3 separate regions of the Homo sapiens genome follow, and all the other regions are linked to region 2. Evidence: fine-mapped expression QTL. A gene starts in region 2. Each other region holds a variant in brackets. All regions are shown on one strand. Distances are between the middles of the regions.

Evidence for each region.
Region 1: its variant is fine-mapped to the expression of LZTS1 in blood mononuclear cells (TOPMed, PIP above 0.99). The same link has a PIP of 0.9 or more in whole blood.
Region 3: its variant is fine-mapped to the expression of LZTS1 in whole blood (TOPMed, PIP 0.91).

Annotation. Positions count from the first base shown.
Region 1 is chr8:20,248,243-20,254,208 of GRCh38, reverse strand. LZTS1 (leucine zipper tumor suppressor 1) reads left to right here. Exons shown (of 4, transcript NM_021020.5): 3 at 624-1,427; 4 at 3,846-5,966. The coding sequence ends at 4,487. Among named protein-coding and RNA genes, the nearest start is that of LZTS1-AS1, 25 kb to the left of the region's middle. RefSeq lists enhancers at 4,100-4,643, 4,644-5,185. The variant C/T (reference allele first, on the strand shown) is at 2,366.
Region 2 is chr8:20,301,176-20,307,141 of GRCh38, reverse strand. It overlaps LZTS1 (leucine zipper tumor suppressor 1), which reads left to right and starts at 3,179. Exons shown (of 4, transcript NM_021020.5): 1 at 3,179-3,402. RefSeq lists a silencer at 3,120-3,189.
Region 3 is chr8:20,272,113-20,278,078 of GRCh38, reverse strand. The region is part of intron 1 of LZTS1 (leucine zipper tumor suppressor 1); the gene reads left to right. LZTS1-AS1 (LZTS1 antisense RNA 1) reads right to left here and starts at 2,306. Exons shown (of 3, transcript NR_047509.1): 1 at 2,165-2,306. RefSeq lists an enhancer at 5,670-5,966. The variant G/C (reference allele first, on the strand shown) is at 3,546.

The DNA.
Region 1 (5,966 bases), 53 kb after region 2:
CCTATTCAGTCCTCTGCCCCTTGCCCTGGGGAAATGAATCCCCGGCTTTGATTTACTAGGAAAGAGCCTCTTATGTTTGCATAGAGCATTCAGCTTTTCAAATTAAGGGGCTTGTAAACTGTGAAGCACTCTACCAGGGAAAATTACAGTTTTAAAAAAGGATCGTGATTTGGAGTGAGCCTCCCAACCCTGTAAGGAGGCCAGGTCCGTGTCCTTGCTCCAGGCTTAATGGAAGAGGCAGTGAACAGGAAGAAGGGATGGACCTAAAGAGGGACAGCAAGCTCGGCCAGCCTGATGCCCTAACTTGCCCCACACAGAGACCTAGAGCAGGAGCCTCAAGATGGTATTTATCACCTCGGGAGGGCTGGGGCAAGCTGGTGGCAGGTTGCTATTTCATAGAACAAAGTGCCCAAGTCGCCATTAGGGTTTTTCCTTCCTAAGAGAGATGACATTCAGCTGCTTCAAAGCAACAGGCAAGGTCTGCTGAGACAATTGACCAAGAGGGGTGCTGCGTGCGCTCAGAGAGCCCAGACTGGCTCAAGGTCGGCACGCGTGCCTGGGGAGGGAGGGTGCAATGCGCGCGCAGGGGAGGCATGAGTCACCGCGGTCCTTTTCCTCTACAGGGCTCCGAGAAGGGTGCAGTGAGGCCCACAGCCTTCAAGCCTGTGCTGCCACGGTCAGGAGCCATCCTGCACTCCTCCCCGGAGAGTGCCAGCCACCAGCTGCACCCCGCCCCTCCAGACAAGCCCAAGGAGCAGGAGCTGAAGCCTGGCCTGTGCTCTGGGGCGCTGTCAGACTCCGGCCGGAACTCCATGTCCAGCCTGCCCACACACAGCACCAGCAGCAGCTACCAGCTGGACCCGCTGGTCACACCCGTGGGACCCACAAGCCGTTTTGGGGGCTCCGCCCACAACATCACCCAGGGCATCGTCCTCCAGGACAGCAACATGATGAGCCTGAAGGCTCTGTCCTTCTCCGACGGAGGTAGCAAGCTGGGCCACTCGAACAAGGCAGACAAGGGCCCCTCGTGTGTCCGCTCCCCCATCTCCACGGACGAGTGCAGCATCCAGGAGCTGGAGCAGAAGCTGTTGGAGAGGGAGGGCGCCCTCCAGAAGCTGCAGCGCAGCTTTGAGGAGAAGGAGCTTGCCTCCAGCCTGGCCTACGAGGAGCGGCCGCGGCGCTGCAGGGACGAGCTGGAGGGCCCGGAGCCCAAAGGCGGCAACAAGCTCAAGCAGGCCTCGCAGAAGAGCCAGCGCGCGCAGCAGGTCCTGCACCTGCAGGTACTGCAGCTTCAGCAGGAGAAGCGGCAGCTCCGGCAGGAGCTCGAGAGCCTCATGAAGGAGCAGGACCTGCTGGAGACCAAGCTCAGGTCCTACGAGAGGGAGAAGACCAGCTTCGGCCCCGCGCTGGAGGAGACCCAGTGGGAGGTGAGGCCACACAGGGCTCATGGGTTTGGGTGGTCAGCGGTTTGGCGCCAGTACCCCCCTCTCCTTCTGGTGCCGGCCAATAGCGTGCAAACACAGACCGCGCAGGCAAGCGGGGCTAATGTGCTGGCTTTATCACCCAAAGAAGGGGCTCCCTGCAAACCATGTTGGGGGATCGACTTACATCTGAGCTTCCTCCTGTCCCCACCATCACCCTCATGGCTCCTAGATTTCAGTTTCCCAAGTGAGCCATTAAATCATGAAGCCGGAAGCCAGATGACCAAGGCCCAGCCAGGCTGTGGGCTGACCTCCCTTCCATCAGCTCCCAGGAGGCTCAGAAGAAGAACAAGCCGTGCCTGAGTTCAGGCGGGGCCAGGGGCCCAAGAGAGCACAGAATGCATTTGTTGCTTTGGAGGGAGGGACTGCACCCACTAGTAAGAGGGACCCTATTGGTGGCAGGTTTCAGTGATGGAAGTGGCCACTCCTTGCTGAAGTGTAAGTGGAACTTCTATTTGGTGAGCTGAGATGGAAACCTAGGAGAGGAAGTAAAGAGTCCCCCACTCACACACTTACACACTCACACACACTCACTCACCCGGTCACACGTGGAAATGAGGCATCTGTACCTGACCGTGCTGGAGAACCCCATAACCTCTGCATCTATTAGTGGGAAAGCAGCTTTTCTCACCAGCCTGGTGGTCTGGATGACTCATGGAGTTCAAGCCCATCGTTGAGGCTCTTTACATGCTCGCACCCAGCTTGGTCTGTCCACGTGCCTGCCTCACCCCCAGTTCAGAGTCCAACTCTCAGTCTACACGCAAACCCCTGGCTATGTGCAAGTCAACAACCAGTGGTTTAACTTGCCCACTGCTGGCAGCTGTATCACCCCCATTTAACACCAATGGTATTGGTTTTGGTGTCAGCCTGATTTCCGTCATCGA[C/T]GTTTATGCCCACATCCTCTGACCTCACCCCTGCATGCACCCAGCCCTCCTCTCTCCTGTCTACTGGAGTAAAGACTACCTCACAAATTCACTGCTGTACCCAGTGACTAGTATCATGCTGGCTTGGATGCAGAGCCCAATCCACATCTGTCAAACGAGGAATCATTGTCTTCTCCTCTTGCTCTTCTTCTCTATTTCCACCCCTATCCCCCATCAAAATTTGGCCAAGAGCAATGATGAAAACCGAAGCCACAGGTTAGACCCATGTGTCTCTGGATCTTGGCCATCTGGGGTCATGGGAGACCAAGGCCAGTCTGGCTGAATCTTAAGAGTGAATGAAGTCCAGAGCATGTGGCTCTACAGAATGGATTCTTGGAACTAGCCTGGAAGCCACCTTCACATTTCCTTTCACAGTAGAAATTTCCCCTTGCCCTCAGTGAAACACTGCACAGTCCTGGAGAAAATCCGACCCTACCCAGGATGCGTGCTTGGGACCAAGAATTTCATTCCAAGGCCAACCCTGTATTCATGCCACGAAGGGAGTGACACAGTCATGGCTGAGGCATGGGCCTGGCTTTGAACCTCAGCTTGACCACTTATGATCCAGGTGATTGTAAATACATTAGCCATGGTGGCAATGGGGTATAGTGATTAAACTGTTGGGATCAAATCTCTACTCTTATACTTTATATTTTATATATATATATATATATATATATATATATATATATATATATATATATATTAGCCCTCAGGCTGGTCACTTCACCAGCTATTTGCTATCATAACCTCTCTGTGCCTCAGTTTCATTGATGTAAATTGAGGACTACTAATAGTACCTACTTCATCGGGTTGTAAGGAATAGATGAGCAAATGTATGGCTTGGCACTTAATAACACTACAAATTATTAGTGAAAGTATGTTTATAATAATATACTTCTGTGTGGCTAGGCGTGGTGGCTCACGCCTGCAATCCCAGCACTTTGGGAGGCAGAGGCAGGCAGAGCACTTGAGGTCAGGAATTCGAGATCAGCCTGGCCAACATGAGGAAACCCCGTCTCTACTAAAAATACAAAAATCAGCCAGGCATGGTGGCAGGTGTCTGTAATCCCAGCTACTTGGGAGGCTGAGGCAGGAGAATCAGAGGGGAGGCGGAGGTTGCAGTGAGCCAAGATCACGCCACTACACCCCAGCCTAGGTGACAAAGCGAGACTTCTCAAATAATAACAATAATAATATACTATGTGTCATTATACATGATTATTATTATTTTATCATTTTACTATATAGCCTAGCTCGATAACCTGGGGAAAAGGTCACAGCAATGTTCAGCTTACTTTCAGATTGGACAAAGGCTGGAATGCCTAACACCGGGCCACCGCATCCGGAGTGGCTTGGTTATTTTAGGCAGCTGAGCTGTCACTTCCCTGGGTAAGGACACTCACCTCTTGGCACTCTGTCTCCACCCCACCCTCGGCAGGTGTGCCAGAAGTCAGGCGAGATCTCCCTCCTGAAGCAGCAGCTGAAGGAGTCCCAGACGGAGGTGAACGCCAAGGCTAGCGAGATCCTGGGTCTCAAGGCACAGCTGAAGGACACGCGGGGCAAGCTGGAGGGCCTGGAGCTGAGGACCCAGGACCTGGAGGGCGCCCTGCGCACCAAGGGCCTGGAGCTGGAGGTCTGTGAGAATGAGCTGCAGCGCAAGAAGAACGAGGCGGAGCTGCTGCGGGAGAAGGTGAACCTGCTGGAGCAGGAGCTGCAGGAGCTGCGGGCCCAGGCCGCCCTGGCCCGCGACATGGGGCCGCCCACCTTCCCCGAGGACGTCCCTGCCCTGCAGCGGGAGCTGGAGCGGCTGCGGGCCGAGCTGCGGGAGGAGCGGCAAGGCCATGACCAGATGTCCTCGGGCTTCCAGCATGAGCGGCTCGTGTGGAAGGAGGAGAAGGAGAAGGTGATTCAGTACCAGAAACAGCTGCAGCAGAGCTACGTGGCCATGTACCAGCGGAACCAGCGCCTGGAGAAGGCCCTGCAGCAGCTGGCACGTGGGGACAGCGCCGGGGAGCCCTTGGAGGTTGACCTGGAAGGGGCTGACATCCCCTACGAGGACATCATAGCCACTGAGATCTGAGGGGCTGCCTGGGAAGGCGAGTCTGGGGACCTGGCACTGGGAGGCAGGGCTCTCCCGTGCATCCCCCCTGCTCAGCAATTCAGACCCCTCTGAGAGACGCCACTCCCTGGGACACAGACCCAGGACCCCCGAGGGGAGGGCAGGATGGCCTTTCCTTCCCTCTCTGATGTCCCAGTGCTCACCAGCCCTGCAGCCCACCAGACGTCAGGCCCTGACTCCTCTGGCTTTCCCAGGAGATGGGTCCAGGGGTCTGTCTGCTTTGGTTAAGGGCTCCCTAAACTTTGGCCTTTGTTCGAAATAGATATCCTCTCCCCCTCCTCCAGGGAAGGTGGCCACAGCAAGTACAGCGGCTCCCCTCTGCTTCTCATCCCAACCTCTTTTTCCTCCTGGACACATTGGAATGCCTTGGAAATAGAAAGAAGCCATATATGACCAGAAGCCTTGGAACCAGCCCCATCAGAACCTGAGCTATTTTCCTCTGGCCGCAGAGGTGTAGGGGTGGAATGAGCCGCGGGGAAGCTGGCTTTGAAACCTCAGGGCTGTCCCAGCCCCGGCAAGCCACAGGAAGGAGGGGAGAGACAGGCAGCCCAGCAGTGTGGAGACCCTGCCACAGCCAGAGGAGGGCAGAGGGAGAATCCAAGGGTTGAGAGCCAGTGGCGGGTGATGGCCAGCCCCTGGGGCCCAGCCCCTGTTTACTGGTTCTTGCAAATGGGAGCTGAGCAGCCTCTGGACAGCCAGTGACCTTTGACCTCGGTGACCACTCTTCTTTAAGCCATAGACCCTGAGGCCCTGGGCTGGGTGCTGGGAAGGGAGGGTTGAAACCACCGTGAACCAGAGGGTGTGGCTTTCCAGGCACCCTCAGGGAGCCTCCCCATCTGTCCAGCTGGGGCCAGAGGCTGGGAGTCCCTACCTGCTTCACGTTGGCCGGCGGCTACTCTGGAATGTTTTTCCCTCCCCAGAATCAAGCTTTTGCTTGATCCAGAAGAGCCCATATCACTAAGATGGCATATATGTGATCTGGGCATTTTCCTCCTCTGCCTACAGCCAGGTTTAGCGGCAAACCTTTCCCCCTTAGCACCTTCAGGGCTGAGTTCTGGGTTTCTAGAGGTCAGGACGGCTCCTCAGAGCGCCAGGAAGCCAGAGCCCCAAGCAGGACGAAAAAGAGGCATACACACAGCAGTGTGAATAGCCTGGCCACCAGCCATCCTCCCTCCACCTCAAGACCCCCATTTGTCCCAGACTAAAGGATCCAGAGAGCAGCTCCCTTTCTCAGGAGCTTGGGCAGTGCCCCAGGGAGTCCAGGGTTTCTCTGCAGATGTGCGGAGCGGGAGGCGGTGGTAGAGAGAGATAAAAGGTGGAGTTTCTCTGTTGTTTGGTTCAGGGATTTTATTTTTAATTTTATGAGACAGGGTCTTGCTCTGTCCCCCAGGCTGGAGTGCAGTGGCATGATCATAGCTCACTGCAGCCTCATACTCCTGG
Region 2 (5,966 bases):
GCATGATGCTCTGTATCTCAGGTGATGAATACAGGAGGAGGGTAGGAGATTTTTACAAGAAATGTTTTGTGACCCAGCTTTCTAGACTCGACTCAGGCAAGGGAGAGCCTGAGGGATGCAGAGTTTCACATAAGACACCTCTCGGGAACCCAGACACTAAGGAAGGGCAGCGCCCCTTCACTAGACAAGGAAGAAAAGGAGCCACACTGAGAACCTACCGGTGGTGTTGGGGGTAGACACACCCAGCCATTGCATTACCATACCCAACTGCTGAATCAGGGAGCTAATTATGGCTTTGTGCTGCTGGAGACCACATTCCTGAGGCTTTCATGCACACATACGGAACCATAATACATACACACATGCTGTGCTGTCCATCACTGGTCTCCTTCTCCACTCTGCCTTCTCATTTCCAGCCCCACTCTCTATGCATTCTGTCTCTAAAGTATCCCTTCCACAGGGTGTTTCTGTTGTTCCATAGGGTATCCCATTTCCACCGCTCATACACAAACCAACACACTGCTCATACCCTTTGCCTGACTCAGTCATTCCAGGAAGGCTGCACATCATACCCAGCTTTCACCTAGAATGTCACTGACAAAGGTGTCAGTGCTGAAGGAGGGTCCTTAAGGAGTATCTTCTCATCCAAACCATCCACTTTCCAGATGAGGAAACTGAGGCCTCATCAGGGACTCCAAACCATCCACTTTCCAGATAGGAAACTGAGGTCTCATCAGGGACTCCAAACCATCCACTTTCCAGATGAGGAAACTGAGGCCTCATTAGGGACATGGCTTGTCCAAGAGCATATAGTCAGCAGTAGGGCCAGAACAAAAAGTGGGCTTCCAGAGTCCTTTGTCTCTTCCATGGAATCTCACCTCCGACGATGTGAAAATGAGTTTGAAGTCTGGAGCCCACCTCATACCTTAATCTACCTTCCAGGAGTCTGCTCTTTCCTTAAAGCGCTGGAATGTTTGATCGATATTAACTCATTCAGCTAAAATTCTTGAGATACTCTCACCAGCAAGCAAGAATACATGTTCTCTGTCAATAAATGCAACACAAAGAAGCATGGCGCTTTAGAAAAAGAAGACATTATTTTGCCCTGGACGATAAGAGAAGGTGTGAGTAAGGGTTCCATATTTTGTCTCAGATTTTGAGAGGTAGAGTTAGAAGAGCAGGAGAAAAGCTTTTCAGACTGAGGGGCAGGTTTATACAAAGGTGGGGAAAAGGAGGTGATGTTCAGGAAAAGGCTGAGTAGCCTTTGGGGTTGACACTTAGAAATTGTCGTATTGCTTGTAATTACTGCCACGTGTATGTACTTACCGCAAGGCAGTGGGTTTCATTTAATCATCAGAACAAACCTATACATGAGAAATTCATTCATTTAACAAATACATATTGAGTGCCTACTATGTTGCCTGGCAAGTTCTAGGTGTCGGGGATACATCTATGAATAAAACAGACCAAGTCCCTCAGCCACCAATAAAAGAGAACAAGTTCCTGCCTTCAGGGAATTTACACTGGGACTTGTTACCTCATTTCACAAATAAAAAAAGAAAGAAAGAAAAAGAAAAACTGAGAAAGAGGGAGGGGAAGGTAATGGCTCAAATAACAAGCAGCGAAGCCTGTCTGTGTTCTTAAACCCTCGCGGTGCCATCTTTCAGGAAGCCTAGATTCGAAGGTCAGAGTCTTCAGGGTCAACAACCGAAGGCAGTGAGATTCCCCTACAGGGTTTTGAGCAGGGGTGTGGCAGAAACCATATGGCTTGTTTTCCTTTGAGCTGTCCCCCCTGCCACCACAATTCTATTTAATTTTTTTGTATTTATTTATTTATTTATTTATTTTGAGACACGGTGTCACTCTGTCACCCAGGCTGGAGTGCAGTGGCACTATCTTGGCTCACTGCAACCTCTGCCTTCCAGGCTCAAGCAATTCCCAAGCCTCAGCCTCCCAAGTAGCTGGGATTACAGGCTCCTGCCACCACACCCAGCTAATTTTTGTATTTTTTTTTTTTTTTTTTTTTAGTAGAGACGGGGTTTCACCATGTTGGCCAGGCTGGTCTTCAACTCCTGACCTCAAGTGATCCACCAACCTCGGCCTCCCAAAGTGCTGAGATTACAGGCATGAGCCACCGCGTCCGGCCCCCATGCTATTTATAATCAGATCGGCTATGTCAATCCTAATCCATTACATCTATCCCCCACCCCCCAACACACACACACACACACACACACACACACACACACACACACAGGCTTCTTTCAAGATGAGGCTAACACTCCTTGGGCAGAGCTGCCATCTTCCCGCCAAGCCTGGTTTTAGAGGATTAGCCTCAGTGCACCCTCAAGCCCCCAAGCCTCATGCTGCACCTAGCACTCCGGTTAACTGACCCTTTGTCCTACAAAACCTTGTAAGCTTGAATCCTCTCCTGGCTCAGTTGCTAGAAGTTAAAAGTGAGGGTGGTTGAGAAAATGATAGTATTATAAGGGGACTGGGTGAGACTAATAGCTATAAACTTGAAACAGGCCTCTGCTGTCACCTGAAACTCAGCTCCCTCAGAGCTGGAAAAGTTTGCTTTTGACATGTTTTGGGAGTGGGAGTCCCGGTGCTCTGGACTCTAGCCTGTAATCCTGGTGTGGTTCGCAATGCCCCTCACTTGGGTGCTAGTCCAGTCCTTGAACAAAACACACGCCCTTTAGTGCGAGTCGGGAGCGGGAGAGACGGTATTAAGAAAAATAAACTGGCGATTAAGAGGAAGGGGTAATGAAGAAAGGGGAACATACACAGAACGGGAGAAGGAATGGATTTTAAACAAAACTGGAGTAAGAATTTCAGGTAATGAAAGGGAAAAAAGGATGCGACAAGAGCAAGACAGGAACAATCGGAGAAAGGGGGCCAGGCAAGAAAGGAAGACTGAGGGGGCAGGGTCGCCCAATGGGGCTGATGGAAGTGAGAGCAGAGAGACGGGACCCGGGACCCCGCGCAGGCCGCGGGCGCGAAGGAGCCGCGAGGTCGCGAGCAGCCCCAGCTGTCAGCCCGGAACAAAGGCCGCCGAGCGGCACAGACCAGGCTGCCGGCAGCTCGCTGCCAATCAGCGGCGCCGGCTCTGGCCCCGCCCCGGGCCGGCCCCGCCCCGCCCCGCCCCGCCCCGCCCCGCCCCGGCTCCGGGACCCGCGCAGAGGCCGGCGCGCCTGGAGCTGGCGGGTTGGCAGCGGCCGGGCGGGGAGGCCGAAAGTTTCTCTGCCCGCCTCGGCCAGTGAGTGGGAGCCGGGAGCTGCATCCCGCGCAGTGGGACCGGCCCGGCCCGCTCAGCAGCTCTGGAAAAAGAGAGACGGGAACACACCGGGAAACACTGGGAAAAAAAAAAAGTCTCAAGTGCGCCCGAGGCGCAGGGGGCAGGTAAGGTGCGGTGGCCGGGGATCTCCTCGCCCCTGGAGGGTCTGCTGCCCTGGCTGCGGGAAACCGCTTTCCCCTCGCCGGGCCGGACCGTCCGTGCGTCCGCGCGTCCGTCGGTCTTTGTCTGTCTGTGTCCGTGGCTGTCGAGGTGTCTTTGTCTCCGCGTGGAGCTGTCAGGGTCTCCCCTCTGCAGGGTGGGCGCCGCTTCTCCGGCCCGGCCCAGAGGAGGTGACTGTGCGTCTGTCCTCCTGTCTTTGTCTTCGTGTCTCCTGCAGACGGGGTTCGTCTATTCCCAGCACCGATGCTGATCCTGGCGGGGACGTCAGTGTTAGGTGACACTGGTGTCGGAGGTGAAGAAGTGGGAGGTGGGGACGCGAGGCCGCAGGAGCAGGGGCCGCAGGAAGAGGGTCCGGCGGTCGGTCCGGGCCGCTGAACTTCGCCGCCTGGAACTTTGCAGATGAGCTGTGTCCACACCGGTGGGGAGGACACCGGTGCGTTGCAGCCAGAGATTTGAAAGGTTTCCCTCAAGGAATAAGTCACACGGGCGGAGGTGGTTAGAGAGGAAGGTGGTAAATCGAAGTGTCTAAGTGGCTCCCTGGGGCTGCAGCTTCCTGGGGTCGGTCCTGGATGTGCAATTCAGGAATTTAGTCAAAGCACCATGCACACACAGACAGCCCCACACTACCTTCACTTCTTCCACCGCCACCCTAGGCAGCCAGACCTCACCCCTCCACCCTGCCACAGGCTTTGCTCTGGCTGGAGGGGCTTCAGAGGTCGCAGCTTGGCAGCAACAGGCATCCCCGAGACACCAAGGGCCAGGTGATGTCTCTTTTTCGTGCTCCAAGTGGAAAGGTTTGAACTGTGGAGCAAATGAGCCTTGTGCTCGCCCACGAGTATGTCAGGCCTGGGAAAGTGCTCCAGACTTGTTAGCTTCGCAGTCTTCAATTTCCCAGGAATAAGAAGTGCTTAGGGATCTGGCCTCCTAAAGTGTTTCCTGTCTCACTTATTCCCTCCACACCGTCCCGCTGCCATCAGCCCCTCTACTCTCTGGTCCCGGGCGCTGGGAAAGTACTGAGGAGGCACTGAGTTCTGGACCATGCCGGGCAGGCGCTGCTCCTAATAAGGATCCCACACTCTGCTGGAAGTGCAGCCTAATAGGAATGCTGGGAGCCCAGGAGCCCAGCCACAAAGAGATGAGCTATCTGCTTGGCAGTTCCTGCACCAAGACCCTGAGAAGAGTCTGCGGGTACCGGCAAGAGGGTGTTTGCAACCTGAGCTTTCTCTAAGTTCAAAAACAATTTTCTGCAGGCATCCAGAGGGAGAATGGAGGTGCCCGAAGAGTGTGCGCATATGGGTATTAGAGATAGCATGTACAGACGGGAAAGGTGTTTGTGTTTAAGAGTGGAGTGGAACATAGTCTGTGGGTAGAAGTCTGTGGGCAGAGAGCATGCAGGCTAATCAGGCGTGGCGTTACACCTTGTATTTATCCAGCGCTTTTCTTTGGAGGCTCTTTCTGCTCATCATAGACGTTATCTCATACGTTATCTCCTTTATCCTCACAACATAACTACCAGGTTGGTGCGGTGGGCTCTCTGTGCCTGCCAGTGAAGAAACGGAGGCGTCAGAAGGGAAAGGCTTTCCCTAAGGTCCCACAGCTAATAGGATGGAGCAACTGGGAGTCCTAGTAAGAGGTCTCAGCTGGGTGGATGTGAGTGTGGGGCGCTCACTCTGCTTAAGAAGAGAAGAAAACTAGTAGAAAAAGAACGGGCATCTCTGTGGGTGTCTATATGCAAGCAAAAGGGAGGGCGGGACATTTGATGTGCTGAAGATGGTTGTTAGTTAACATTTATAGCAGCGGCTGTGTGCTTCACGAGGTAAACCTGTCTCAGCAGTTCAGCTTGTGCATTTGTGTATCTGCAGGAGGTGCCCCCAGCTGTGTGTGCCTGGGTCGATGTGGGGCAGGGGTGCTGTCATAGAAGGAGTGCTGCTGCGTGGGGTGCCCTGGGGAAAGCCAATGCTTTGGGAGTGTGTGAGGGAAAGATGTGCCTTTCAGTTTTGAGAAGCCGTGGGTCAGCGTGTATAGCAAAGCTATACATGGGCTCCAGACGTATATAAATGGCTTTCTAATCCTGAAAACTTATTTATATGCCTTTGCGCTTATTCAACGTTCATTTCATAAATATTCATTGGGCGCCTACCAAATGCAAGGCTCTGAGCTGTGCAGCGAGGCTAGGAAGATGAATAATGTAATGATGACAGACCTATGGGTAAGCACCTTATAGACCAGTGTAATGGATAATACCGTAACACTTAATGCCAGCCACTAAATCCACTGTGTGCCTGGAACTTTTTATTCATTATCTCATTTAATTTTCACTGCAGCCCTGCGGGGTATGTATAATTATTAGATGAGGAGAGTTAAGTAATTTAGCCAGGCTACAAAACCGAGGGGCAGGGATTTGAGATCAGCTTAGTAAGGTTCTGGACCCTGGCTCTGTCCATGTTATTCTGCTACCTTTGAACATAGAAACACTGTTTCTTCTGCATGGAATATTCCTGCCTGGTCT
Region 3 (5,966 bases), 29 kb after region 2:
ATCTGATGGTCACCTGACATTCCTGGGTTGGGGACTCTCCTGCCCTGCTCATGCCTGCCCGACTACCTACTGTAACACAACTATGTGCCAGGCGCTGTGCTAAGTGATACATACAGTGGTGAGCAAGACGTTCCAAGGTGCTCATAGTAGATGGGAGTGTTTCCACACACACATTATCCTGCTCCCAGCCTTCCCTCCAGTCCCAGGGTTCCCAAGCTCTGCACCAAGCTGGAATTGGCATTAGACACAGCAAGTCCTACTGGGAAATGGCTAGGAGGCTGACAAATCCTGCTGTTTTGGATCTTGCACCAGATTCTTGGCACTATGGTGCACAGAAACAGAGAAAAGGGTGCTTTTAGGACAGTTCGCCCACCTGGAGTTGCTGGAATTTTCTAACACCCCACCCTACTTCCTCCAACTCATAGATCAGCCTACAAAGTGAAAATCCACAGTTAAAGGCCCAGTTCTTAAACCATTTCTTGGTTTGTCCTGTTGGAATTAATACCAGCCTTATATACTTGTTACTGGAAAGAGGTCCTAATCCAGTCCCCAAGAGAGGGTTCTTGGACCTTGCTCAAGAAAGAATTCAGGGCAAGTCCATAAAGTGAAAGCAAGTTTACAAAACAAAAGAATGGCTACTCCATAGGCAGAGCAGCAGCATGGCTGTTCAGCTGAATATACTTATAGTTATTTCTTGATTATATGCTAAAAAAAGGGGTGTATTATTCATGAGTTTTCCGGGAAAGGGGTGGGTACTTCCCAGAACTGAGGGTTCCTCCCTTTTTAGACCATATACGGTAATTTCCTGACATTGCCAGGGCATTTGTAAACTGCCAAGGCACTGCTGGGAATATCTTTTAGCATATTAATGCACTATAATTAGCATATAATGAGCAGTGAGCACGACCAGAGGTCACTCTCATCACCATCTTGGTTTTGGTAGGTTTTGGCCTGCTTCTTTACCACAGCCTGTTTTATCAGCAAGGTCTTTATGACCTGTATCTTCTGCCTACTTCCTGTCTCATCCTGTGACTTAGAATGCCTTAACTTCCTGGCAATGCAGCCCAGTAGGTCTCAGCCTTATTTTACCCAGCCCCTATTCAACATGGAGTTGCTCTGGTTCAAATGCCTCTGACATGCTTACCCTTAATCCTAATGTCCAGTATTGGGAGCACCTTTAATAAATAAACCGTTTTCCTCTGATCTAACACCGTAACAATCAACCCAGAAGACTTCTATTACCACATATGTGGGGTTTTCCCAACCAACAAGAAAACAATCAGCTCTGCAGAGGACCCTCTGATGTTCTCTCATTCAGTTCATTTATGGCACTACCTACCTGGAGATTAATTCACCAGGTTGTTTCACCAATACTTCTGACTGGCTATAAATTGGAGTTCCCATGACCCCAGCCTTGGGTTTGATTAATTTGCTAGAGCAGCTCACAGAACTCAGTGAAACACACTTACTGATTGATTGTACAGGATATTACAAAGGATACAGATGAAGAGATGCGTAGAGAAAGGCAGGGGAGAAGAGGTGGGGTGCTTCCATGCCCTCTCTGGGCACGCCACCCTCCAAGACCCTCCAGGTGTTCAACTATCCAGAAACTTCCTGAGCCCTGTCCTTTTGGGTTTTTATGGAGGCTACATTGCATAGGCATGATTGATTAAGCCATTGGCCATTGGTGATCAACTTAACCTTCAGCCCCTCTCTCCTCCCCAGAGGTTAGGGGCAGTGGCTGAAAGTCCCAACCATCTAATCCTGCCTTGGTCTTTCTGGTGACCTGCCCTATTCTGAAGCTACCAACCATCAGTCAAAAAAAAAAAAAAATCACTCTGGAGACTCTAAGGATTTTAGGATGCCAGGAAATGGGGTCAAAGACCAAATATATATTTTATAATATCATAGTCATCCATTCATTAAACCAGCGTATCTTAAAATGAATCTATCCCAGGATTATATTATTTCTTGATAACCTATAGGCCTCTTAAACATTTTCTTTATTTTTTGGAAGTAGTTATAATGGGGGAGTAGGTAGGGGGCTACTAGCTTTATAGACTTCTCCTCCCATTAAAATGTGCTCCAGTCCCAAAAACCTGCCTTCATTTCTGCAGGCTACACCATTTCTTCTACCCATGTTGAAATGCACTCAACCACATACCTCCTTTCTTGCAGCTAAGCCCTGACTCCTTTTAGTTAATAACAGTTCACCCCGGCACGTGACATCTGCAAAAAAGAAATCCAATCCTCATAACCAGCAGTTATGATACAGTCACTGCAGTAAGCTCCTACTGCTGTCCTTGCCCTGCACCCTCACCCTTCCCCACAGGGCCCCTTCTCTCTGCCCAGTCACTCATTTGCATCACAATGGAGGTCCTCTCCGGAGTCCCAGTCTTAACCCCTCCCTCTGCTGCTAGGACTGGACCCACCAGCACTTTCCATCTTCCTCGTCCTTCCTTGTTTCCTTCTCTTTCTCCTCTCTTACCCCGAGATTGCCCCTTACCCTTTAGGATTCCCTCACCTATGCCTTCTTAGATTTTTTCTCCTGCTTAGGCCCTTCCCCAACTCCCAGCCCACCTCTCTCTGGGGTCTGCAGGAAAGCTTCTCCCGGGTGGGGGAAGTAAGGCTGGGAGCTAACCCATATGGACAATTCTTTTTTTTTTTTTTTTTTGAGATGAAGTCTTACTCTGTTGCCCAGGCTGGAGTGCAGTGGCGCGATCATCTCGGCTTACTGCAACCTCTGCCTCCCGGGTTCAAGTGATTCTCCTGCCTCAGCATCCCAAGTAGCTGGGATTACAGCTGCCCGCCACCACACCCAGCTAATTTTTGTATTTTTAGTAGAGATGGGGTTTCACCATGTTGGCCAGGCTGGTCTCGAATTCCTGACCTCAGGTGATCCACCCGCCTCAGTCTCCCAAAGTACTGGGATTACAGGCTTGAGCCATGGCGCCCAACCATAATTCTTTCTGTCCCCAGTTAATGAGTTATCCATCTCTTCCACACACATTAGTATCTGTCCCCCACCCACTGCCCTTCAGAGACTTCCCTCCAGGAAGCGAATATCACAATCCTGAGAGGTAATCCCATTGAGACACACACACACACACACACACAGTATCATGGCAGCCACTCTATCTTTGTTTTTGATCACAGCGCTCCAAGGAGCCCACTCAGTGAGGGACCAAGGGTTAGGTCGAGGGGTCACTGAGAACTAATTCAATCTTTTGTACAAATCCTAACTTCCAGTTTAGGTGGGGCCACCAATGCATCCCGCTTTACGAGGACTTTCCTGGTGATTTAGCACTGACATCCCACATCCCAGAAATTCCCACAGTCCCAGGCAGATCAGGACAGTTGGTTGTGCTGTGTCCCAGATTATTTTCACAAAGTGGAGCTTGGAGTGCAGAAAAGCTCGACACCAAGGGAGTGTTGACGCTGGTACACGCACTTACGCCCCATTGGGTTACGCTGTCCAGCTGTAATCTTATCTCCACATAAGGGGGGTCTAACACTCAGGCCCACAGACTCCAACACGCCCACAG[G/C]CTCGGACCCAATGCTCAGGCCAGAGTGCCACTGAGGCATGAGTGCCCACATGGAGAAGCCTCCATCACACACCGGGATGGAGATGATTGCCGCTATGCTCCAAGCTACCTAGTGTATTCCAAGGGGTTCCCTAGGATGAGGAGAAGGGATGAAAAGTTCGTAAACACCCACTGTGTAGAGTGTTTTATGGTGTTGCATTTGGGAAAGGGTAGCTGGTAGAACATAGGCACCATAAAATAAAATACGATGCATAAACACACGCTTATCCATTCATTCAACAAACAAGCACTGAGTCTTGGGCCAGAAGGTACTGCGCTCGAAGCTGGGAGTACAGTGTTGGGTGAAAAACAGTCTTGCCATCTACTGAGAAAGAGCTCAAAGTAGAGAGCAGCTGTGCTACAGAGTGATTAATGCCCACTGTAAGAACACGCAGAAGGGGCCTCACAGATACGGGAAGGCTTCATAGCAGAAGAGTGCCTTCTGAGCAAAGTCCCAGGGGCTTTGGGCCTAGGGAGCAGCGTGGGAAAACCTAGGGCAGGGTCTGAGGGAGAAAATGACAGATTTACAAACTCCAGTCTCAGAATAGAGGGCGGGCAGGCCTGGGGAGGGGAGGAGAGGAAGTGGTGGCGGATGACATGAAGATACAAAGATACAGAAAGTCCCAGTCATGAAGGCCTTCTCTGCCATGTTAGGACATTTGGGCTTTATTTTTGGGGCAATAGGGTAGCCTTGGGAGAGCTAGGAAAAAAAAAAACAAATATAACAGGTCTATTAATTTCCCAAGGGAACTATGATAGCAACTTAGACTAAGACAGTGGCTATGGAATCTCAGGGAAATGCTGGTTTTGAGGAAAAGCAATAGTGAGACAGGGCTTGGTGGCTGGTCAGATGTAGGGTGAGGGCTGAGTGGGAATCAAAAGTTCCTGGTTTGCTTAGGTTTCTTGGGACCGGTTTCTGGCTTGATCACAGTTGTGCTGTTCACTAACACCGGGATTCCAGAAGGAGGGGCACGCTGAAGGCAGATGGATCCTGGCAAGCAAGAGAGAATGAAGAATTCCACTGTGGATGTGCGAGGGTGAGATGTGGCCCCTCCGAGGGAAGCGCAGTTGGATGTTTAGGGCAGGAGCTCAGGGGAGAGGATTTGGCTGCAGATAACGATCTAAAAATCATCCCCATGTGGATGCAGCTGACGCCGTGCAGAAGGAGCAGAGGTCAGGGTCTCAGATACAGCCTGAAAAGCATCCACATTTAGAGAATGAAAGAGGTAAAGGTGACAGAGGACAGGCTGCGCAACAGGAGGAAAGCCAGGCAATCACGGTATCACATAAGCCAAGGAAGCAGTGTTTCAAAAAACACAGACCGAAAAAGAAAGAGACAGAGCCGCCGAGAGGTCAAGTTTGCTAACTATTGGGAAGGTCCATTGGATTTAGCAACATCCCGGAGGGCAGTTCTAGTGGATTGGTGGGGACAGAAACCAGGGCCTCTGTGGATTGAAGAGCCAATGAGAAATGATCGAGCAGCAATAGTGAGTATGATGTTCTGTCTCTCTCGAGAAGCTTGGCTGTGAACGGGAGAAAAAAGACAGTGGTCCCTGGAGAAGAAAATGGAGTCCAGGAGCTTGTATGTTATTTTTGAATTGGGAGACTTGTGCACGTTTAAATGCTCATGGGAGAGAATAATAGAAAACTGGAAGTGAGAAGGTTGGCGTTGACGAGAGTCACGCCATGGCTGGAAGGATTAGTCTGAGATGAAGACAGACTTCTGTTTCACGGTGACAGGCACAGAGGAGGCAGCAGTCATGTCAATTGCAGGTTTATGAGTTCAGGGAATTGAGGGAGTTTCCTCCCAATGATTCTACTTATCTCTGTATTATAGAGATGAAGTTGTCTGCAGGGAGTGTGGCAGCAGAGGTGGGTACAGGGCTTTGTAAGTGGCAAAGGACTGATAAGATTTGAGAAATGCAACAGGGAGCAGGAGAAGCACAGGGCAGCTAGGGGGTCTTGATTCTAGGGTCCCCATCGGCATCTGGGCTCAAAAAAGAGTTCCATGTCTAGTGGACAAAGGCACCACTTCAAAATACAAAGACCACCCAGCAGGGAAAACCAATGAGGACCTGATCTGGGAAGGGGGGTCAGGCTCAGAAGGGAGAATTGGGCATGAGCAAAGCCACAGGGGAGGAAAAAAGCAAGACAGGCCCTTGAGGGTGGTCAAGGGACACCAGTAAGGTCACTCTGGAGGTCAGATGCGACCCAGAGTATCAGCAGCTGCACATCGTGGATCAGTCAAGAAGCAGGCCCAGTCATTCTAGCCTGAAATAGTGGGAGATGACCTGGGAAGACAGGTTGGGCTTAGATTGCATCGGACCTTGAATGCCAAGTTAAATGTGTCCATTGTCTGACATGATTCATGACATGATTCTA